Linked DNA regions of Homo sapiens. The protein of the gene in region 1 interacts with the protein of each later gene in a pairwise test. Each region holds a gene or a part of one and is shown in the gene's direction. Other genes may lie near its edges. The genes, in order: ARL13B, TMEM229B, KLRG1, FXYD6, SPN, ANKRD46 and PTPN9.

Region 1 (3,500 bases):
ATTGTATTTGTTCACCTCTCCTCACTTAGATCCTTTCCTAGTGAGCATATTATTCCAGACATTGGAATCAGGGATTAGATTTGTGTGATAAGGACAAGGCAGGAGTCAGAGATCAAGTGTTAAGGCACCAGTCTAGGTCAGCAGTCAAGATCTTATAAAAGTTTAACGCTTCATCCCCCTTAGTGGAGTACTGAACCCCACTTATTTGGGGTTTGGTATGGCCCCATTCATGAATTTTGGTTCAGTTTGGTACGGCTCCATTCATGAATCAATGAATGTGGAAATAAACTCTTGAAATTTTATTGTTCCTAAGTTTATCTTTTAAAAATATGTTACCAAATTGCTCCTCAGAAAGGATTAAAAAAGAGAAAACACAGTTTCTACTCCTACCAACAGTACGTTGGAGTGCCTTTTTCACTGAGAAAATCAAGAGTCATCGGTTTTTCATCTCCTTCACATTATAGGGGAACCTGCTTTCTGCTTTGAGTTTCTGGGGTTTTTTTTGTTTTGTTTTGTTTTTATTACTAGGAAGATTAACTTTTTTTCCTTGCGCATTTTTGTTTCTCTCAGCAGTTGTCCATTGATTACTGTTGTGTTTTTTCTATTGGGGCAGGTGTGTTTTCTTAATGAATTTTTAAAAAGAAATTTTAAGTGTTTGTCGTAGCTACTGTTTCTCTGTAGTACAATTGACACTTGAACAACGCAGGGTTTAGGAGCACTGAACCCTGCCTTGCCAGCACAGACAGAAATCCACATATAACTTTTGACTTCCAAAAAACTTAATTACTAATAGCCTCCTGTTGACTAGAAGCCTTACTGATAACATGAATAGTCAGTTACCACATATTTTTTATGTTATATGTATAATTTATTGTATTCTTAAAGTTAGAGGAAAGGAAATGTTAAGAAAGTCATAAGGGGCGGAGCACGGTGGCTCACGCCTGTAGTCCCAGCACTTTGGGAGGCTGAGGTGGGCAGATCACTTGAGGTCAAAAGTTCAAGACCAGCCTGGCCAACATGGCGAAACCCTGTCTCTACTAAAAATACAGAAATTAGCTGGGTGTGGTGGTGGGCACCTGCAATACCAGCTACTTGGGAGGCTGAGGCAGGAGAATCACTTGAACCTGGGAGACAGAGGTTGCAGTGAGCTGAGATCATGCCACTGCACTCCAGCCTGGGCGACAGAGCAAGACTCTTGTCTAAAAAAAAAAAAATTAAAAAGAAGAAAAAAATACATTGACTATTTATTAAGTGGAAGTGGATCATCATAAAAGTCTCCATCCTCATCTTCTTCCCATTGAGTAGGCTGAGGAGAAAGAGGAAGAGGGGTTGGTCTTACTGTCTCAGGAAGGTTTCAGAGGCAGAAGAGGTGGAAATGGAGGCTGGGGAGGCAGAGGAGGCAGGAGAGGAAGGCACACGTGTAACTTTCATTAAAAACAAATTTGTGTGTAAGTAGAACTGTGCAGTTCAAACGTGTGTTGTTCAAGGATCAGTTGTATAATATTGCAAGTATTTTCTTTCCATTTGTTATATTTTCAACTTTTTGTGCTTTTTAAATATAAACATTTAAAATGTTTGAATTCAGGCTGGGTGTGGTGGCTCACACCTGTAATCCTAGCACTTGGGAAGATCGCTTGAGCCTAGGAGTTTGAGATCAGCCTGGGCAATATAGTGAGACCCCATCCGTACAAAAATGTTTTAAAAAATTAGCCAGAAGTAGTGGCATGTGCCTGTAGTCCGAGCTACTTGGGGGGCTGAGGCAGGAGGATCGCTTGAGCCCAAGAGGTGGAGGCTGCAGTAAGCCCAGGTTGCCCCACTGCAGCCTAGCCTGGGTGACAAAGTGAAACCCTGTCTCAATCAATCAATCAATCAATCAATCAATAAGACTAAATAAAAATTTTAAATTCAAATATATTACTGTTTCAGTGTAATGTTTAGAAAGTTCATCAGCATTACAAGATTACATTCACATATACTTTTTTCTTGTAGTTTTATATTTTCATTTTTAACATTAAAAACTGTTAATCTATTGCAATCTATTTAGCTTATAGGGAGCAGCCTTCATCCTGAGTACAGGACACAAGGTCTGTGAAGCTATGATGCTCAGTAAATCTCTGGGCCTTATAGCAGATTCTAACCCTTACACATTCTCATCTACAGATTTTGAGCTCCTGTTATTTATAACATAGCATCTAGGTGATGAAATAGTGCATGTAAAATATAATGATCGAATATGCAAGAGTTGAAATATGATTTTTAAGATTTTTAATGAGAATCAGGAAAGAGGATTTTAGAAGGGGTGTAATTTTACCTGGGTCTTGAAGAAATTCATGCAACAAATTTTGCATACAAATTTTGGCAACAAAATTCTTTGTTTATATGAAAATATACATGTTATATAACTTCTTATATATTATGCATACATAACTAACAAAAATGTTTTTACTGTTATTTAACCAAAAAGAAAGATATAATAAGTACCATATGCCTGCCAGGTTTTATAAATATTAATCTTTAGTCATCATATTTCAATTTTATTTTAATAAGTAGGTAACAAATCCTTGAAACTTCCTGCCCCCTATTCATCTCCCACCATTCTTCCACAGAGTTAACCTTTAATTGGAACTGATTTCTTGTCCATCTGTGTTTTTTCAGCATCACAAATACAACCTATCAAAGCTTTACTTCAAATTTATTAGTAAATTGTTTGCTGTGGCCAAGTCTAAAATAAGATACAGTACACAATGTTTCTAGTGGTCTGTTTTGTCCTCTTTGCTATGAACTTTTTCACTGAGGGAATACTTAGCTCCCTAATACCATCATTCTTGGCCTAAATAAATATAACTGTAAATCTAGACCATTTATAGAAATTGCTGAGTTCTTAATTTTCCAATTAAGCTGTATGTACAGATTAGCAAGGATTATCTATTGTGCTGTATGCTGAACTGGAATATTTTACATCTCTTTTTATCCCCCTAGTTCTTCTTGATTATGCATAGTAAGAATTTTAGAATTTTAATATAGAAAAGGACCTAGAGACATTCTTATTTTACCCCCTTATATTTTAGAGATGAAAAAATGGACACTAAGAATTTGACTTGATCAGGGCTTAAAAGCAGGCTATAAACCCAAGCTTGGCCTTCTCACTATTTATTCATACTCAGTAAATTTAGATAATGATTTTGCTGTAATATGGGGTTCTAGATCTGAATTGAAATGTCAGAAAATAGTGTACTGCAATAAAATCACACTGTTTTTTCGATACATTTTTTTCTTTCTATCAATTTGTCGTATAGTGATTTTTTAAAATTCTCACATATGTATCATAAAACCTTGTTCTAAAGTCTTTTTTTGTATATGTATTTGTTACTTTTAGAATTTATGTTTATGTTAAAATTTAGAATTTGCTTCATGTAGTTTTAAATACTGTAGATAATAGAGTTCCGATGTGTCAAACTTTGATTTTAGTGTTTTTAGCGAAATGTTTTCTTTGACTTGCA
Region 2 (3,500 bases), on another chromosome or scaffold:
AGCCGGTGAGATGCTCTTAGTGAACAGGGCTCTGAAAGCCAGATCCCCTTCCCCTTCCCCATCACCTGTTCCCTTGAAGGGGTAGTTCCTAGACCTCACAAGTCACCTTGAGTCCTGGCCCTTCGATGGGACTCTGTTTGCCCAGGCCCTTTCATCAGGTATGAGGACTCTCGGATTTGAATGTTGTTCAATGAAACCCTGCTTGTGAAGCTATCCTTTGCTCTCCAAACTCTGTCCTCCTGCATTCAACCTTGCTCACACTCTCCTCCTCTTCAATCCACCCTGAATTTCTGTTCCTGGGCTGTCCTATCTTCATGTCACAGGTCTCAGGACAGTTTTGTTTGTCACCAGGAGAAAGAAGCCAAGGTCCCCTGAGCTGCCGGTTCTCCCTGCAGCAGGCTTTCCCAGGGCTCTGATCCCAGGGCTGAGCAAGGAGCTAGTGGAAGGAGCCTAAGGATATAGGGAGTCGGGTGGGTGGAGGCCGGGGCAGGGAATAGAGGCCTGTCAGGCCCTGTATGGGGTGGGCGAGCCTGTCCTAGCTCAAAGTTAAGCACAGCTCCTGTGCTGATTAGAAATGGGTTTGGAGAGTGGGGTTCTGAAAACGCATCCAAGTCAATGCCCAGCCTCTAATATTATCATCTTCCCCACCACACTGGGAGCTGCCACCTCAGCCAATGACACTGTCTCCTATTCCTTTCTCTTCAACCCCATCTTCTGCCCTGACTCAGGTCTTTCATTTCCCCTGTTGGTCTTGCATGGACCAGCTATGTTCTCCTAGTTCTGCCCTCGGACACTGTCTGACATTGCCGTGGTGTGCTTCCCCTCCATCTACTACCCATGGCTTCCTGCTGCCCAGAAACAGAATCTGGGCTTGGGGCACACCATATTTCTCTCTCCCCCATCTCGCTTTTTTGTTTTTCTTTCTTTCTTTCTTTTTTAAGAGACAGGGTCTTGCTCATTGTCCATGCTGGAGTGCAGTGGCACAATCATAGCTCACTGTAGCCTCAAACTCTTGAACTCAAGGGATCCTCCTGCCTTAGCGTCTGGGACTACAGGCACACCACATCAAACCAGCCTACTTTTTTTTCTTTTTGTAGAGATGGTGGTCTCGCTATGTTGCCCAGGCTGGTCTCGAACTCCTGGCCTCAAGCTATTCTCCCACCTCAGCCTCCAAAAGTGCTGGGACTGCAGGCATGAACTCCATCCTCTCTTCTGTTCAGCAACTTCCTGTCTCTCACCCTAGGTTTCTCTCTCCCTTTGACAGCTACCCCTTTCTTCTTGCTTCTGCTCCAAGGGTTTTGGGATCTGACTCTCCCAAGTTACTTGCTGGGGTTGGGGAAGAGACTGGACCCTCCCGTCTGTTACCAGCTGGGAAACCGGTCTGGGCCATCCCAGAGAGATCAGAGGCAAGAAGAGCAGGGTTTAAAGTCAGCTTCAAGGCTGGGGTCTGGCCTGAGTAATGAGATCCACACAGTCATGTCAGGCTGCTGCAGGAGAGCCCCTGTGAGGTTCCTGTTCCCTCAGCCCGGGCCCTGGGGGTTGGAAGAGCCAGGGGGATACGTGCAGGTCATGGGGCCTGAGTTGGGGTAGGAGGTCCAGAGGTCTCCACATCCCTGTGCTGTGCCATCTGTCTCAGGCCCTCAGACCGCCTCAGTGTGTTCCCCTGGAGCCTGGATCTGTTCTCTCCTGCCCGGGGGTAGGAGGTTAAATGAGGGGGTGAGAGGCTGTGCCCCTTTCATTCCACCATCTTTTCAAGTCTGCCCCTCGGGCTGGCTCTGACACCCTTCCTCTTCCATTCATCCCTCGGTAGCCACAGGGAAGCTGGAGGCTCACCTTCAGTCTCCCGGGATGTCTGTGGGAGTTTTGTTCTCCTGAGGGCCATATGTGGGGTTATTATTGCCACCCGATTTCTTGGCTCGCTAGCTTGGTGCTCAGGGTTGTGATGAAGACCTAACCTGCTTGACAGGAAGGGCTGCCTGGAGGCTGCCGAGAGCAGGGGCACAGTGACCCTGCATCGGGTAAGAGGCGGTGTAAAAGCAGGAGGGGCTGTCCAGAGGTCTGGCTCTGTGCCAGAAATGACAGCTGCCCTTTCTGGAGCCTTAGCTGTATTTTAAGTAGTGTATATGTACGAGTTCATTCGTCCTCACAACAGCCTTCTGTGGTCATTACTTCCGTTATCCTCACTTTACCTACAAGGACCCTGAGGCACAGGGTGGTTGGGCAGCGTCCATTAGGTCTCACAGGTGGAAAGCATCAGCCAGGATTCCAACCCAGGCAGTTAGGATCATCTGGGGTCCCTGAACTTAACCAGCTGGCCATATTGAGACCTGTGAGGCATGGTTTGTTGTTGGATGACACAGGAGGGAAGAGCCTGCAATAATTTTACATGACTTCAGGTTTCTTTGGGTTCATTTGCTTAGCAAATTCATTGAACACCTTCTATACACGAGGTATGAATACGGTGAATACATATTCATTCCACAAGCATTTTTTTTTCCTTTTTTGAGACGGAGTCTCACTCTGTCACCTAGGCTAGAGTGCAGTGGCGCTATCTCGGCTCACGGCAACCTCCGCCTCCCAGGTTCAAGCGATTCTCCTGCCTCAGCCTCCCGAGTAGCTGGGATTACAGGTGCATGCCACCATGCCCGGCTAATTTTTGTATTTTTAGTAGGGATGTGGTTTCACCATGTTGGCCAGGCTGGTCTCGAACTCCTGACCTCAGGTGATCTACCCACCTCGGCCTCCCAAAGTACTGGGATTACAGGCATGAGCTACTGCACCCAGCTTCCACAAGCATTTTTTTTTTTTTTTGAGACAGAGTCTTGCTCTGTAGCCCAGGCTGGAGTGCAGTGGTACGATCTCGCTCACTGCTACCTCCACCTCCTGGGTCCCGGTTCAAGCAATTCTTCTGCCTCAGCCTCCCGAGTAGCTGGGATTACAGGCACACGCCACCACGCCCAGCTAATTTTTGTACTTTTAGTAGAGACAGGGTTTCACCATGTTGGCCAGGCTGGTCTTGAACTCCTGACCTCATGATCCACCCACCTCAGCCTCCCAAAGTGCTGGGTTTACAGGGTGAGCCACCACGTCCAGCCTCCATAAGCATTTTTAAGATGAAATTTTAGTTTTATAAAAGTTATACATGCTTGTTAGGAAAAAAAAGTATGCAGAAAAATATAAAGAAAAAAAGCACATATGATATCACCATCCAGAGATGATTGTTGTTTAATTTTTTTGTATATGTGCACATATGCATGCCTTTGCAGAATCGGAGTTAGGTTGAATATTCAGTTTTGAATCCTGCTTTTTTCTCTTACCACTATCTTAAACAAGCATTCCTCAGGAGGCTGCTGGTGCTGGCGTTCAGATGAATCCAGTGAAGCAGAGTGCTCACTATTACCACAGAGAAGGGAGGGTGCAGAAGTGGGAAGACAACTCTGGAGTCAGGGTGCTTAGGAAAGTCCTCACAGAGGAGGAGCTGGGTCTTAAAGGAGGGTTCA
Region 3 (4,059 bases), on another chromosome or scaffold:
AAGCTAGGGTGATCATTGCACTCACCTTTGTATTCTCTCAAGGATCACAATGCTGCCTGTGTGTTCCTGAAAATAGCTGCCTTGTGTGTCTTGCCATGTGTTGTATTTTGATTGGAGAGTAAGTCTAATGCCATTCTGTCATGGCTGGAAGCAGAAATATATTTGTTTTTATTAATATAAAACAAATTAATATAAAGCACTCCCTGTTTCTCTTCTTTTATCCTTATGCAGTCTATCTTGATGATCTTATCCACTCTTAAGAGTTTCAATACTCTTTCTGTTTCCTTACTTTAACTTTTGTTTTTTTTAGACGGAGTTTCACTCTTGTTGCCCAGGCTAGATAGAGTACAATGGTGCAGTCTCGGCTCGCTGCAACCTCCGCCTCCCGGTTTCAAGCCATTCTCCTGCCTCAGCCTCCTGAGCAGCTGAGATTACAGCCCCCACCACCACACCCAGCTAATTTTTTTGTATTTTTAGTAGAGACGGGGTTTCACCATGTTGGCCAGGCTGGTCTTGAATTCCTGACCTCAGGTGATCCACCCTCCTTGGCCTCCCAAAGTGCTGGGATTACAGGCGTGAGCCACCACACCTGGCCTACTCTAACTTTTTATTAACTTTTCACCTACTAAAAACAAATTACTAAGATGTTAGAATGTATTTGTTTACTTTGCTCTTCTTTTTAGTTATCTTTGCATGAAGTATAATAATAAAAAAAATAAGACAACAAAGAGAAAAAATATAATGGAATTTCTGATACTGTGAAGGGTAAAGACCATCACACAATTTGGACAAGGTTTTGGGGAAGATGTGGTCATGTCATATTCACAAAATATATCTGGGTAATAGTCTATTTCTCCCGTGATTCCAGGCATATGCACCCAACAGTCCATTTCGTTATTGCTTATCACTGCCCAAAAGTTCCAAGAAATGATGAAGTCAGTCTCATTTGGCATACATCTACTTTTTCAGAAGGAAACAAAGCAGAGAAAAAATTCCGAGAGAAATTCATAGCTAGTAACCACTCTCACTTTTATTTTAGTTTCCATAACTGAAATTGCTGGACTTGAGAGCAATTTTTCCTTGCTCAACAGAATTAGGTGAGATGGGGAATCAATTTAATATATATTTAGTGAGCATCTACAGTGTCATGGGGCAAAAAAATAGCAACTTACAATATTAATTTCTATAGGCAGCCCCCAAATTTGAATCATTTCCTGAAAAATTACTTCTGCTTTTGTGAAGTTTCCTGCTAGCAGTTTAGAGATTGGGCTGTTTCCTCACTGATACATATCCCTTCACACTTCTATAATTTAACTCTCTCAACTGCATGTGAAAGATCTTAGCTGAAGATGACTGACAGTGTTATTTATTCCATGTTAGAGTTGCCTACGGCAACCCAAGCCCAGAATGACTATGGACCACAGCAAAAATGTGAGTTAACCAAGGTAGCATGGAAGACGATGCATAGCAACAGTAGGCTATGGATGAATGGGGAGTAGAATAAGTTTAAAGCAGAGGGTGCAGAAGAATTGAGGATAATTTGAGGAAATACTTTTGGTTCAGTTTAAAGTCCAGAGTTGGAATATGAAAAGTTGGTGTATGGTACAGGATCTGATCTTAGGTCTCAGGTAAACTCTTTTCTAACTGTTCACTTCTTTGATCGCATCTTAGAAACCCAACTTAGGGCATTGCCGTTATTCCTTCTTGCTCTTAGCTAAAGCGGGAACTTTGTTGGGAGAATTTTATCTCTTTAGTTATATTCGGAGTAACCTTGGACCAGCTGTTTAAATTCTAGGTATGGCTGTTTTTCTGACTATGGAATGAGGAGGACACCAATAGTTTTGCTGGTGGATACGAGTAAGATTTTTGTCAGGAAAGAAACTGATTTACATATCTAGTTTTGTTTTTTTTTTTTAACTTCACAGTGTTGCACTAGAATGGTGACAGGGAAGAAAAAGTATCAAGAAACTACAGATAATAGTCTCTGTGACTGAGGATTTGAAGGCAAAAGAGCCATTTTTACATAGAGCCCTGAGAGAATATTATCTGAGACAGACAGGTAATAGTGTAAATGCCAAAATTAATCCTTGATTTTGTATCGTAGGCAGTGAACTCCCACAAGGTGTATTCTTTAGGGTAGTTCCCTAAGCTTTCTCTCTTTTTACTACATAGTTTTACTATTATAATTTTTAATGTCTTTTGAGAGTGTTGCCTTAATTTGCTAAATCATTCTAGTATACTTGGGATATTTAGACCTATTTCTATTACCATAAATTATATAGCATTGGATATCTTTATTTGTGTAACCTTTTCCTATTTTTGAATTGTATCTATGTTAATTTCTAAGGAATAGAAATATTACGTTAGAAGTAATGCATATCTCAAAGTATATGTTCAAGGTCACACACACAACTGGTGATAAATTGGAACCTAGTTGGAACTATTTAGAGGCTTTCAATATATACTTAAAGTAAATTTTAAAAATTTACTTTACTTCTTGAATTGGCTTGTGGTTACACAAATTCAATTATGGTTTGATACCTTTTTAAAATTTAGCATAACATAAAAATGAACATTTGTGTATTTCATTAAATGTTCTCCTGTGATGCAAATGTATTTTTAAAAGTTTTTCTAGAAATCTTAATGCTTTTGGATTCATCAGTCCAAATATTTATTATGCAGAATTCTCTATTTATGAAGGCATCTCTCATTATGAATTTTTTTCTTTAAGAAGTTCAGAATACTCCATAGATACACACATATATAGAATAATTTATCTAAAATTTAATCAGAAAATTGAAGCCCAAATAGGCAAGTTTAATTTCCTAATTAAATGTTATTAAGCAAAGGAATCAAAATTAGAAGTTAAATATCATCTTACTTCACAGAGTTTTGCTCGTTACACGTAATTTCTACACTATTGCACTATGAGATACCTTTGATTTTAAAATAAAGATTTGCTGAAAATACTTCCATTTTTCAAATTTAAAATTTAGATTTCGGTTGTATGCAACACAGCTAACATGAAGTAGTGTCCTATTCTTAAACTTGGCATCAACTTAAACTTACTGCTCTTTTAATAACGACAGTTTACAAAGCACTTCTGAAATGTAGATTATTTTTATTTAAATTTTATGTATTTCAATTTCGAGTAGATAATATGTTTACATGGTTCAAAATTCAAAAGGTACAAAAGAAAATAGGGTAAAAAGTCTTTTTCCTATTTTGTCTCCAGTGACTGTTTTTTCCATTCCAGAGGCAAACAATGTTATCAGATTCTTGAGTGTGCTTGCAGAGATATTTGTATATCCTGTTCTGCAGAATGTTTCTTTGTCTTGACTATATATCTTACAAAATATTCCATATCAGTTAAAAAAAAAGCCAGTTTTTATTAGAAGCTATATATTCACTTTATGGATATATCAAAAATGTATTTGACTGGCCTTTTACTGATAGAATGTAGATTGTATTCAGTCTTCTCCTCCTACAAATATTGCTGCCACGAATAAATATGACATTTTGCACCCGCGAGTATCTGTAGGAAAAATTTCTTAAGGAGAAATTTCTAGGTCAAAGGGTACATGCCTTTGCCGTTTTGGTAGATATTGCCCAATTGTCCTCCAAAGAGGTACCAATTTGTATTCTCACCACCTAAGTATGAGACAGTGTAAGTCACAGTTTCAAAGGAAAAAAGCATTCTTTATCTTGATAAATATAGTAAGTTCTTTGATACAGGTGTTGGTGGTTACCTTAGACTTTAGAGCAAGTTCCTGACACATCTAGAAAAGGAATCTTTATGGCCTGGATCTCAGTTCCCACTAGGCCAAATTGCTTTAAGATGCGATATCCTTCCCTGACTTTCTCTTTTCTTTCAACCTGTCATCTGACTCAGGATTGTGCTTTGACTCTGTTGTTGCAGCTTCCTCTTCCAGGCCTTCTTGTTCTTGCCTTGTGGCAATAGCTTTGGGGCTTCTGACTGCAGTTCTTCTGAGTGTGCTGCTATACCAGTGGATCCTGTGCCAGGGTAAGTGCAAACTTAAACCAAAATTAATCTTTCAT
Region 4 (3,500 bases), on another chromosome or scaffold:
TGCCTGAGTTGGCCTCGCAGTACTGTTCTGTGTTTCTGCTTCTGAGGGCTGTTGTGAGAAGTCCATGGGTGATGGCTGGGATGCCACAGTGTCACGGTTGTCAGTGATGGTGAGGTGACAGCAAGACCTGGGAAGGGGGCTGGGGCCCCACGGACCAGGCTGGGGCCCAGAGAATGGGGCTGCCCCAGTTCAGAATATCTGATGTGGGCAGAGAGGGCCAAGGATGAGGGGATGTGATTGGAATGACAGTGACCCGCATGCAGCTGGAGGACAAAGCCAGGCCGGCACGCACTGAAAGACCAGAGGCTAAGATCTCTCCACCATGCCTCCGCTTATGGTCCAGCTTGGGATCTTTCCAGGGAGACTTCCAGAAAACAGGCCTGGATTTGTGATTTGTGAATTCTGTTTCTGTTTCTAAGGAAGAGGCCTTATTTCTTTTCACAGTCAGTTATTTTCTGTCTCTCTCTCTTCTTCTTCTTCTTCTTCTTTTTCCTCTGTCCAAGTTTCTCTTCCCTAGAAAGAACTTCATGTTTTCATGTTAAAGATAAAGGTGCCTCCAGGTTAAAAATAAGTCCCCTGCTATATGACAAGAGAGTTTTGCCTCTCCCGCTCCACCCTGTGCAGCCGGGCTGGGTTGGGTCTGGGCCGGTTGAGTCCAGGGTACCTGACGACTCAGCCTCCAGCACCCTCGCAGTGGGAGTGCCCCTCTTCCATGAATGAGGGTTGGAGGGGCAGCATTCGAGCCGTTGGGCTACTGAAGGCGCCTGACAGGAGAGGGAAAGGCCACCCTGGGAGGTGTCAGCCACAGTGATGCGCTGGGCGGAGGTGCCCTGTCCTGCTCCTAGACTGTCCAGCTGCCTTCCTGGCAGCTTGGGAAATTCAGCAGTGTCTGCAGCCTCCTTGAGCCATGGACTGCTGGAATTTCACCACCCTCTGCTCTGTCCTTTCCCTTGCCAGTCTCTGAGTCCAGTCTCCTCCTCGACTCCTCTCTGGAACATTGCTGGCTGGGCGGGGCGGGCAATCATTTCAAGTTAGGTGATTTAACAATAATTGATGCTTAATTGTTTATTTGATGGGCATTTAAAATGCAAATTGAGGGAACTGGTTGCATTTTCCACTGATGGATCTGTGGCCTCTGGTCGACCCAAAGCACTTGTTTTAAAAGGCAGCTTTAAAAGCCCTTGATGGTTGTTTGTTTGCTCTGAGGCTCTGAACCAGAGAAGCCCAGCTCCTGTTACAGATTCATCAAATGCCGGAAAGGTGAGCAGGAGCCGGAGTGCTGGGATGGGGTTGAGGATTGCTTTTAACTGAATTTTTGAATTTTTATTATTTTTCTACGAATAGACTATCTTTTTAGAACAGTTAGATTTACAGAAAACTTGGGCAGATTGTATGAGTTCCAATTTTCTCCCCTGGCATGCAGTTTCTGCTATTATTACGATCTTACATTAGGGTGGTACATTTGTTACAATTAATGAACAAATATTGGTACAATAATATTGACTAACATTGACACTTTATTAAAATGTCGTTCGTTTGTACCTTATGTCCTTTTTCTGTTCTAGGATCCCATCCAGGATACCACACTCCATTGAGTCGTGCCTCTTTTGGTGCCTCTGGGTGGTGACCTTTTCTCAGGCTTCCCAGGACTTTGACAGTTCTGAGGGTCACTGGTCAGGTGTATTGTAGGATGTGGCCCTGTTGGGATTTGTTCGATGTTCTCCTCATGATTAGACTGGAGTGATGGGTTTTAGGGAGGAAGATCACAGAGGGAAAGTGCCATTTTCATCACATCACACCAAGACGATACAATCAGGATGATTCATTGCTGTTGACGTTGATGGGACTGGGTTTTCCATCCCTTTCATGCCCCCCACGCAGCACAGTTTCAAGGCCTGGTGATTGGAGCTGTGTTCTCTCCGCTCCTCGAGACAAACATACCAAACCATCAGCCAGCACTTTCGGCCGTCCTCACCATCCCAGGTGAGGACAGATCATGGGGTAGCACAGAGACTTTTCCGATAGGAGAATCTTAATGAAGCGAGCATGAAACAGAATGTGCTATGCGCCAAATTAGTGCCAACGACAGGCGACAGGCGCTCTTGGAGTCTGGAGAAAGGGGTCTACGTGGAGTGGCAGCTGGACAAAGATAGCATTTATTAACCTTGGCTGCACATCAGAATGAGTGGGGGAGATTCTCAAAATTACCGATACCTTGGCTACACTGCCCTTGGCTACACTGCCCGGGTTTAGAGCTGAATGTGGCTGAGTTGATTTCCAGGCATCTTTTTTCTTTTCTTTCTTTCTTTCTTTTTTTTTTCTGAAGCTCTTCATGTGATCCTAAGGTACAACCAGGGTTGAGAACTGGAATAAACAAAGAAGGGAAGGGCATTGTAAGTAGAAGGAACAGAATATACAAAGGCACGCAGTTAGAGACACATGTGGCAGAAGATGGAACGTAGACCATCTTAGCTGAAAGTAATGAGAAGATACTGGAGGGGTAGAAGAGAGGTACACTTAGAGATTTTCATATGCCAGAAAGAAGTTTGGATTTTAAAAAACTAAATAGGACGTAGAGGCACCACCGAATGCCTTTGAGTTTGGGAGGGAGGTATTCAGAATACACTTTAGAAAGGTTAGTCCTGCAGTAATCAGTGTCCAGCACAGAGGGGAAGGAGGAGGTTAAAGATGGGTCCAGCTACTGCACTATTAGGTAAGTTACCCAGAGGAGTGACGGAAAGGAAGTTCCAATTAGAGAGATACTGCAAGTGCGAGCATGGCTAGGACTTTGCCACAGATGCAGTGTGGAGATGGGGAAGGAGAGAGGAAGCCCCGGAAACTTGGTGAGGCCGTAACCTCCGTCAGGCAGGGAGGCAGGGATTGTGTCTGTCTTGCTCACTGCAGTGTCCTCAGTGATGAGTGAAGTGCTGGAAAGCATTAGGCCATCAATAAATATTTGTTAACTTGGTTACTGGAAGGATAAGGGTGCCATTGTTTCCAAAATTACACCTTGTTCCAAAAGTACGCTCTTTCTCCCCCAATTTCTCCACCTAAATGCAGGCAAATTTCTCTGCTGTGGAAAGCAATCTGATTAAATAACTCAGGCCAAGATATAAATGACTGTTAGGATTGGGAGTATTTCTCTTGTAGTGATGCCGTGACATTTAAACGTCTCTCCTTGGGAAGAATTGTTGTGGAGGCAGATACATTTTTGAGTAGGGGTGGCCTTTATTTCGATTCTACACCCTCATCTAATTCTGAGCCATACCAGAAAAAAAGGTGATCTGCAGCTCTGCAGCCCACGGTGAAAGGCTGCCGGCTAGTAGTTCTGTTGGCACCCACCCTGAGCTGAGCTCCAGTGGACAGGATAGCCTACAACTGGTCTGGGACTCCATCCAGTACTCAGCATAAATGCACTGGTATTCTGCTAGGCAAAGTGCAGCGGGGCACTCAGCAGCTGTGAGATGGACAGAGGCTGAGAGGGACACAGGAGTGCCTGT
Region 5 (2,222 bases), on another chromosome or scaffold:
AGCAGACAGGTTGACCTGCAAAAAAAGACAGGGGAGGCATGTGAGTGTGACAGCCCTGCTCTGTGGCCTGGGCAGGAGATGGGGGAAAGGGTCAGGTGGGGGATGGGCTCGTGCAGTGGGAGAGGAGACGGAGGGAGGGAGCGGGAAGGGGCTTGCTTAGTGGGTGGGAAGAGCTGAGCTCGGATGGAACCAGCTTCTACCAGCCAGGCTGGGCACCCACTGGGCTGCATCTGGTGGCCTTTTCTGATTGCTATTTGGACTCACTGCAGCTGCAGAATGACAGAGGCCATGTCCAAAATCCCTTAGAGACACTGTTGTCTTAGAGTTGTTAAAATAAGAGCCCCCATATCAGGTTTAGAAAATACTGTCACCGAACGAACGTCGCTGTCCTCAGCTCCACCTCCCTTTCCTTTGACAGATATGGTTGTTTTCTAAGCCAGGACTGGTTTTAGTCAGGTCCTGGGCGAATCCTGAAAAAAAGAGGTAGTACGGGTAAGGAAGGCACCCAACAGGGCTTTCACAATCCAGAAAATATCAAAATATAAGTGTTAAAAGAGAGGCACAGGCCGGGTGCGGTGGCTCACGCCTGTAATCTCAGCACTTTGGGAGGCCAAGGTGGGCAGATCATGAGGTCAGGAGTTTGAGACCAGCCTGGCCAATATGATGAAACCCCGTTTCTACTAAAAATACAAAAGTTAGCCAGGCATGGTGGTGTGCTCCTGTAATCCCAGCTACTTAGGAGGCTGAGGCCAGAGAATTGCTTGAACCCTGGAGTCAGAGGTTGCAGTGAGCCGGGATCATGCCACTGTACTCCAGGCTGGGTGACAAAGTGAGACTGTCTCAAAAAATAAAAATAAATAAAATAAATAAAAGAGAGGCACAAACAGTGTTATGAATGCACCAAGGAAAATGGTGCATTCATAACTCTCAGGTGAAGCCTACCAAGCCATGCGTGTGTGCACATATGTGTGTACGTGTGCATGTGCGTGCGTGCATGTGCGTGCGTGCATGTGCCTGTGTGTGTATGTGTGCACATGTGTGTGCGCATGTGTGTGTGTGCGCGCATGTGTGTGTGCATGCATGTTCTCCCATGCATGTGTACTGTGGCAAGGGAGACTTTGAGGAAGAGATTCCAGTGGCTGAGCAGAAGGGCTCGCATTGCCCTGGCGAAAGGTTGGAAGGCTTCACCTGAGAGTGTGTCGTGGCCTTTGTCATATCCACTGCTTGATTCCTTTCTTTAAAAATTATTTTTATTGTTTTCTACATATGAGAACCACCACACCTGGCTAATTTTTGTATTTTTTGTAGAGATGGGGTTTCACCATGTTGTCCCGGCTGGTCTCAAACTCCCGGGCACAAGAGATCCACCTGCCTCAGCCTCCCAAAATGCTGGGACTATAGGCATGAGCCACTGCACCCAGCCACTGCTTCATTCCTGGTGGCTGCTGTGCCTGGCATGTTGCAGATCCTCCATGAATATGCATTTGAATGAATGAATGAATGAATGAATGAATGAATGGAGATGACGCCTCAGAGATTCTTTCTTTTGAGATGAGGTCTCATTCTGTCACCCAGACTAGAGGGCAGTGGTGCAATCACAGCTCACCACAGCCTCAACCTCCTGGGCCTCCCAAGTAGCTGCGATCACAGGTGTGCACCAACATGCCCAGCTAATTTTTTTTTTTAATTTTTAATTTGTACAGACAGGGTCTTGCTGTGTTGCCCAGGCTGGTCTCAAACTCCTGGGCTCAAGTGGTCCTCCCACCTAAGCTTCCCCAAATACTGGGATTATAGGTGTGAGCCACTGTGCCCAGGCTTGCCTCAGATATTTGAAGGCTGGGAAGGATTTTGCAAAGCTGGGAAAAGGAAAAGGCATTCCCAGCAGAGGGGATAGCAGGTGGAAATACATAATTAAAAAAAAAAAACGTGGAGCAGATCCAGCGCAGTGGCTCATGCCTGTAATCCCAGCACTTTGGGAGGCAGAGCAGGGAGGATTGCTTGAGTCTAGGAGTTCAAGACCAGCCTGGGTAACATAGAAAGACCCTGTCTCTACAAAAACACAAAAAATTAGCCAGGCGTGGTGGTGCATGCCTGTAGTACCAGCTACTTGAGAAGCTGAGGCAGGAGGACTGCTTGAAGCCAGGAGTTTGAGACCAGCCTGGGCAACATAGTGAGACCCCGTGTCTACAAAAAGTAAACATTTATATATATATTTTTTAAAG
Region 6 (3,500 bases), on another chromosome or scaffold:
CTATGGATAAAAAAGGGACAAACTATGGATACACACAGCTACCCTGGATGAATCTCCAGAGAATTATACTGAGTGAAAAGACCAATCCCAAAAGGTTCCTGTATGTGCTGTATGGCTCCATTTATACAACATTCTTGAAATGACAGAATTAAAGAAGTGGAAGACTAGGTAGTGTTTTCTAGGTGTTAAGGAGAGACTGGCATGGGAGGGAAGCAGGAATAGCTAAAAAGGGCAACATATGAGAGATTTTTCATGGTGATGGAAATGTTCTGTATCTTGACTATATCAATGTCAGTATCCTGGTTGTGATGTTGTACTATAGTTTGGCAAGATGTTACCATTGGGGGAAACTGGATAAAGGGTGCACAGGATCACTCTGTGTTATTTCTTACAACTGCATATGAATTTATAATTATCTCAAAAAGTTTAATTTAAAAAAGTCTTTAGTCCTCTTCACCCATTGGACAATCGTTAAATATGTGCTCTGATTTGTATTCACTTTATGACTTCTTAGGGAAGCTATTAACAGAGTCTAGTGAGTAAGGTCTAACTGAGGTCTTGGAAGTTTTCTTGGCAGGTTTCTAGTAATTTAGTCTAATGAATTTGTATAATATTATTATGAAATCATACAAATCTGTAATTTGTTCAAGTGTATTTTCTTATGGGCCATTGTAATATCCAAAGAAAATGGCAGGCTGGTTGCGGTGGCTCACGCCTGTAATCCCAGCACTTTGGGAGGCCAAGGTGGGTGGATCACCTGAGGTCAGGAGTTCAAGACCTGCCTAGCCAACATGGTGAAACCTCATCTCCACTAAAAATACAAAAATTACCCAGGCATGGTGGCACATGGCTGTAGTCCCAGCTACTGGGGAGGCTGAGGCAGGATAATTGCTTGAACGCGGAGGCCTCTGCAGGTGAGTCGAGATTGCACCACTGCACTCCGGCACCAGCGACAGAGTGAGACTCTGTCTCAAAAATAAAAAAAGAAAAAATTGCAGAAGCATTGTCCTTCTTGTGGATTTAAGAGAACATTAGGATTATTTGGGGGCATGACCATATGAACTATAATTCCATCTCTAGATGAAAAACAAAATTTTTTCTTTTTCCCTAATGTGAGCTCTACCACATCCAGAATAACCCACTTGCACCATTTTAATTAACATTGAAAATTAAAGCCAAATCATACATTAGAGACAGGCTCTAGTCGTTAAAGACTCAGCTCTAGAGGTCAGGACAAGAGAGGAAAAATATTAGGCTTTGGGTGAATACATAATATTTGTTTAAGGAAATCAAGGTAAGTGGCTCCGTGATATGAAGTTCGTCTAAATTGATACTGTGGTATCACAAAAGAAGTAGGAAATGAGGAGCGTAGATGTTTTGTGTGTTATCATGTCTTCGTGATATTTACTGACCCTCGTGTGGGACTGGTCCTCAGGTACAGTTTGTCAGCTATTGTCATCAGTTCCAGCCTAGCACTGATAGCCTTTATGATACAACCTGACTTACATATTGTAAATGGAGCTTTGTAAAATACCATTAATTATTTCCCTATATAAATTTGTTCACAGGGATTTGATAACAATGAACAAGGATGATCGGTAAAAAGTTAACCTGTATTTCACCCTGACCAGGAATTTGGGATTTGGACTTGATAGCATGGTATCTGGCACATTGCAGGCACACAGTGAATGTTTGTTTCATGAACTAATATTGCTATTTTTGTGGTCCTTACTGCCTGCCCATGACCCTGCTTCCACGGTCCTTCCAGAGAAGAGCTGAGTGGGCAGACAGGGTGCCCTCGTAGTCTCTCTCAGTGCAGAGAAGTGCAGCCTGGGTGGGGGAGCAGCGTCAGGCTATGTAAAGAAGACTACAGATAGACTTGGGCCAGCTTTTATTTCACACTGAAAAGACAAGGAAGGGAACAGATTTAAAGAGATTTAAGTACCAGCATTCAAGGTAGATTAGAAATACTTTTTCTTAAATGTATCCTGTTTGGTTTAAATATAAGTATTGGCTTTTTAAACTTATTTTTTCCCACTATGAATAGTATTTTATTTATAAAAATGCTTTTGTGGACTAATCTGGGATCTAGCCTCCATTTATAATGTGAAAAATATGCATTCTGAATTCCAAGTAATGACTGAGAGTGAATTTTCGGAGCCCAATTTGTTCTTTAGTGATGGCACATAATTTGATTCTTATTCTTTTATCTTTCTGTCTTGCTTTCTTGTTTGTGGGCCACAGAGCAGCTTCTATTAAGCCCTTCTTTGCTTCCTTTTCACTACTTTGTTACTCGTCAGATATTTTTCTGGCCTCACAAGTTGATGCCTCACCTACAGATTTTCTAGAGAATTTCTTCAGGCTCAGTAACCTGTCTGTATTTAATAGAACAGTGAGTTCTTTTTCTCACCACACTTCTATTATAACTTAATTTTCTATTTACTGTAGATCCTTGCCAGCACATTACAGAATATTTTTGTTGAACCTTCTTGAGAATTCAGAGAAACTGCTGAGTGACCACTGAACGAAAAGATCTAATCTTAAGGCTTACGTGAGTATTTACTACTGTGGACTTCCTCACAAGATGTGAAACCTTCAGTGAACTGCTTTAGGACAGATTCAGTTCTGTGATCAAGATGAAAAATAACTATCATTGGGCTTATTAAATGTGGGATTAAGTTTAGTAGTTGCTCAGGGACACAGAGAAACTGACAAAATACACACTTGTTCTCACCTGAAAAATAGACACAGAGACTTGTATTTCTTGCTGAGCCAACACTCAGAAGTATCCTAGTCTGCAAACCACAAGAATTCTTACTGTGTCTGAATCAAAAACACCAACTAGATTTTTTAAATTATCTATTTTTAAAAATTTAACCAAAACACATTACCTTTTGAAAAGCACTTGATATGTGGCATTTCATTTTGAAAAAGGTTTATGATAGCTTTTCCATTTTTATGATTCAATACTGTGCAAGCTTGTCCAACCTGCAGCCCAGAACAGCTTTGAATGTAGCCCAACACAAATTCATAAACTTTTAAAAAACATTCTGAGATTTTTTTTGCAATTTTTTAAAGCTTATCAGCTATCATTATGTATTTTATGTGTAGCCCAAGACAATTCTTCTTCCATTGTGACCCAGGGAAGCCGAAATGTTGGACACCCTTGCTGTAAGGGAAAATATTTAGATTACCCTCGCAAAAGAATTCTTGACTATTTTATTGAGTAAATTCTTCTCATTGAGTTTTTCTGTTTGTTGGTTTGGTTTGGTTTGGTTTGGTTTGTTTTTTTGAGACAGGCCTCACTTTGATGCCCAGGCTGGAGTGCTGTGGCTCAATCACAGCTCATCGCAACCTCGACCTCCCGGGCTCAAGTGATCCTCTCACCTCAGCGTCCCGAACAGGTGGGACGAAAGGCGCGCGCCACCATGCCTGGCTAATTTTAAAATATTTTATAGAGACAGGGTCTCTCGCTATGTTGCCCAGGCTAGTTTCGAACT
Region 7 (3,500 bases), on another chromosome or scaffold:
TGCTGGGAAGCCTTGTTAATAATATAAAGCTTTTGTTCACTACATCGTCCTTTCAGAAGATGTATAACAGTGTCCCTAATTCCAGGAGTGAATTTTATATACATTCTGGGAGTTCACACTTTTATCTGGCAAATTCATAGGACTTAAATCTCAGGCAGATGAAATGTAGTCTACTACTTTTACAAGTATACCTTGTATTTCAAGAAAATCTTATCCCATCCTCCAAACCTGATATAAATACATTTATTCTTTGTCACTCTATATGCCTTTCCCTCCTCCCACATACTCACATGGTTCTTTCTAACCTTCCAGATTCAAATATTAAAGACATCTGAGGTCACGCAGCATCTGCCCAGGGAGTGTCTTCCAGAAAACCTGGGTGGGTACGTCAAAATTGATCTCGCCACTTGGAATTTCCAGTTCCTACCCCAGGTGAACGGCCACCCAGATCCCTTCGATGAGATCATCCTGTTCTCCCTCCCTCCTGCCTTAGACTGGGACTCAGTACATGTTCCAGGTCCCCATGCTATGACCATCCAAGAGTTGGTGGACTATGTTAATGCCAGGCAAAAGCAAGGAATCTATGAGGAATATGAAGACATTCGTCGTGAGAACCCTGTTGGCACTTTCCACTGTTCCATGTAAGTAGAAAAAGTTTGGGCCAGCAGCTGGTTACCAGGATGCTTCTGGTAGGCTCTGGCAACAGCTCCTTCCACCCCTCACTTGCTTAGCAGAGACCCTTCCTTATGTTAGGGAACATCACTCTCACATAAATGATGGTTTCTCGCATGCAGAAAGAGGTACTTTCTGCTTTGGTGCTTCTTTTTTTTTTTCTTTTTTTTTTAAATTTTTATTTTTTTTATTGATCATTCTTGGGTGTTTCTCGCAGAGGGGGATTTGGCAGGGTCATAGGACAATAGTGGAGGGAAGGTTGGCAGATAAACAAGTGAACAAAGGTCTCTGGTTTTCCTAGGCAGAGGACCCTGCGGCCTTCCGCAGTGTTTGTGTCCCTGGGTACTTGAGATTAGGGAGTGGTGATGATTCTTAACGAGCATGCTGCCTTCAAGCATCTGTTTAACAAAGCACATCTTGCACCGCCCTTAATCCATTTAACCCTGAGTGGACACAGCACATGTTTCAGAGAGCACAGGGTTGGGGGTAAGGTCACCGATCAACAGGATCCCAAGGCAGAAGAATTTATCTTAGTACAGAACAAAATGAAAAGTCTCCCATGTCTACTTTCTACACAGACACGGCAACCATCCGATTTCTCAATCTTTTCCCCACCTTTCCCCCCTTTCTATTCCACAAAACCGCCATTGTCATCCTGGCCCGTTCTCAATGAGCTGTTGGGTACACCTCCCAGACGAGGTGGTGGCTGGGCAGAGGGGCTCCTCACTTCCTAGTAGGGGTGGCTGGGCAGAGGTGCCCCTCACCTCCCGGACGGGGTGGCTGGCCAGACCCCCCCACCTCCCTCCCGGACGGGGCGGCTGGCCAGGCGGGGGGCTGACCCCCCCACCTCCCTCCCGGACGGGGCGGCTGGCCGGGCAGAGGGGCTCCTCACTTCCCAGTAGGGGCGGCCGGGCAGAGGCGCCCCTCACCTCCCGGGCGGGGGGCTGACCCCCCCACCTCCCTCCCGGACAGGGCGGCTGGCCGGGCGGGGGGCTGACCCCCCCACCTCCCTCCCAGACGGGGCGGCTGGCCGGGCAGAGGGGCTCCTCACTTCCCAGTAGGGGCGGCAGGGCAGAGGCGCCCCTCACCTCCTGGACGGGGCGGCTGGCTGGGCGGGGGGCTGACCCCCCCCACCTCCCTCCCGGACGTGGGGCTGACCCCTCCACCTCCCTCCCGGACCGGGCGGCTGGCCGGGCGGGGGGCTGATCCCCCCACCTCCCTCCCGGACGGGTCGGCTGGCCGGGCGGGGGGCTGAGCCCCCCACCTCCCTCCCGGACGGGGTGGCTGGCCCGGCAGAGGGGCTCCTCACTTCCCAGTAGGGGCGGCTGGGCAGAGGCGCCCCTCACCTCCCGGACGGGGCGGCTGGCCGGGCAGGGGGCTGACCTCACCTCCCTCCCGGACGGGGCGGCTGGCCGGGCGGGGGGCTGACCCCCCCGACCTCCCTCCCGGACATGGGGCTGACCCCCCCACCTCCCTCCCGGACGGGGCGGCTGTCCGGGCGGGGGGCTGACCTCCCCACCTCCCTCCCGGACGGGGCGGCTGTCCGGGCGGGGTGCTGATCCCCCCACCTCCCTCCCGGACGGGTCGGCTGGCCGGGCGGGGGGCTGAGCCCCCCACCTCCCTCCCGGACGGGGCGGCTGGCCCGGCAGAGGGGCTCCTCACTTCCCAGTAGGGGCGGCTGGGCAGAGGCGCCCCTCACCTCCCGGACGGGGCGGCTGGCCGGGCGGGGGGCTGACCCCACCTCCCTCCCGGACGGGGCGGCTGGCCGGGCGGAGGGCTGACCCCCCCTCACCTCCCTCCCGGACGGGGCGGCTGGCCGGGCGGGGGGCTGACCCCCCCACCTCCCTCCCGGACGGGGGGCTGACCCCCCCCCCACCTCCCTCCCGGATGGGGCGGCTGGCCGGGTTGGGGGCTGACTCCCCCACCTCCCTCCCGGACGGGGTGGCTGGCCAGGCAGAGGGGCTCCTCACTTCCCAGTAGGGGCGGCTGGGCAGAGGCGCCCCTCACCTCCCGGACGGGGCGGCTGGCCGGGCGGGGGGCTGACCCCCCCACCTCCCTCCCGGACGGAGCGGCTGGCCGGGCGGGGGGCTGACCCCCCCACCTCCCTCCCGGACGGGGCGGCTGCCGGGCGGAGACGCTCCTCACTTCCCAGACGGGGTGGCTGCCGGGCAGAGGGACTCCTCACTTCTCAGACGGGGCGGCTGCCGGGCGGAGGGGCTCCTCACTTCTCAGATGGGGCGGATGCTGGGCGGAGGGTCTCCTCACTTCTCAGACGGGGCGGCTGGGCAGAGACGCTCCTCACCTCCCAGACGGGGTCGCGACCGGGCAGAGGAGCTCCTCACATCCCAGACGGGGCAGCGGGGCAGAGGCGCTCCCCACATCTCAGACGATGGGCGGCCGGGCAGAGATGCTCCTCACTTCCCAGATGGGATGGCTGCCGGGAAGAGGCGCTCCTCACTTCCTAGATGGGATGGCGGCCGGGCAGAGACGCTCCTCACTTTCCAGACTGGGCAGCCAGGCAGAGGGGCTCCTCACGTCCCAGACGATGGGCGGCCAGGCAGAGACGCTCCTCACTTCCCAGACGGGGTGGTGGCCGGGCAGAGGCTGCAATCTCGGCACTTTGGGAGGCCAAGGCAGGCGGCTGGGAGATGGAGGTTGTAGTGAGCTGAGATCACGCCACTGCACTCCAGCCTGGGCACCATTGGGTGCTTCTTGCTAACATCCTATGCTCTGAAATTTCTGAAGGTCTTTGGTACCAACAGGATAACCCTGTTGGACATATTTTTGGATATTTTTCTGAAATGCAAGTTTTTTTTAAAAAAAGTAGG

What was found.
Region 2: the proteins of ARL13B (region 1) and TMEM229B interact in binary tests that used the Homo sapiens proteins (3 or more experiments, as listed by UniProt).
Region 3: the proteins of ARL13B (region 1) and KLRG1 interact in binary tests that used the Homo sapiens proteins (3 or more experiments, as listed by UniProt).
Region 4: the proteins of ARL13B (region 1) and FXYD6 interact in binary tests that used the Homo sapiens proteins (3 or more experiments, as listed by UniProt).
Region 5: the proteins of ARL13B (region 1) and SPN interact in binary tests that used the Homo sapiens proteins (3 or more experiments, as listed by UniProt).
Region 6: the proteins of ARL13B (region 1) and ANKRD46 interact in binary tests that used the Homo sapiens proteins (3 or more experiments, as listed by UniProt).
Region 7: the proteins of ARL13B (region 1) and PTPN9 interact in binary tests that used the Homo sapiens proteins (3 or more experiments, as listed by UniProt).

What each region holds. Positions count from the first base shown.
Region 1 is NC_000003.12:93,983,155-93,986,654, forward strand, and holds part of ARL13B (ADP-ribosylation factor-like protein 13B), read left to right. Parts: intron 1-3,500. UniProt on the Homo sapiens protein: Cilium-specific protein required to control the microtubule-based, ciliary axoneme structure. May act by maintaining the association between IFT subcomplexes A and B. Binds GTP but is not able to hydrolyze fit; the GTPase activity remains unclear.
Region 2 is NC_000014.9:67,478,722-67,482,221, reverse strand, and holds part of TMEM229B (transmembrane protein 229B), read left to right. Parts: intron 1-3,500.
Region 3 is NC_000012.12:8,988,287-8,992,345, forward strand, and holds the start of KLRG1 (killer cell lectin-like receptor subfamily G member 1), read left to right. Parts: upstream 1-1,259; 5' UTR 1,260-1,349; coding exon 1,350-1,431; intron 1,432-1,925; exon of another isoform or gene 1,926-2,059; intron 2,060-3,919; coding exon 3,920-4,024; intron 4,025-4,059. UniProt on the Homo sapiens protein: Plays an inhibitory role on natural killer (NK) cells and T-cell functions upon binding to their non-MHC ligands.
Region 4 is NC_000011.10:117,866,659-117,870,158, reverse strand, and holds part of FXYD6 (FXYD domain-containing ion transport regulator 6 precursor), read left to right. Parts: intron 1-3,500. UniProt on the Homo sapiens protein: Associates with and regulates the activity of the sodium/potassium-transporting ATPase (NKA) which catalyzes the hydrolysis of ATP coupled with the exchange of Na(+) and K(+) ions across the plasma membrane.
Region 5 is NC_000016.10:29,666,932-29,669,153, forward strand, and holds part of SPN (leukosialin precursor), read left to right. Parts: 3' UTR 1-2,222. UniProt on the Homo sapiens protein: Predominant cell surface sialoprotein of leukocytes which regulates multiple T-cell functions, including T-cell activation, proliferation, differentiation, trafficking and migration.
Region 6 is NC_000008.11:100,532,260-100,535,759, reverse strand, and holds part of ANKRD46 (ankyrin repeat domain-containing protein 46), read left to right. Parts: intron 1-2,448; 5' UTR 2,449-2,551; intron 2,552-3,299; exon of another isoform or gene 3,300-3,404; intron 3,405-3,500.
Region 7 is NC_000015.10:75,502,816-75,506,315, reverse strand, and holds part of PTPN9 (tyrosine-protein phosphatase non-receptor type 9), read left to right. Parts: intron 1-312; coding exon 313-641; intron 642-3,276; exon of another isoform or gene 3,277-3,313; intron 3,314-3,500. UniProt on the Homo sapiens protein: Protein-tyrosine phosphatase that could participate in the transfer of hydrophobic ligands or in functions of the Golgi apparatus.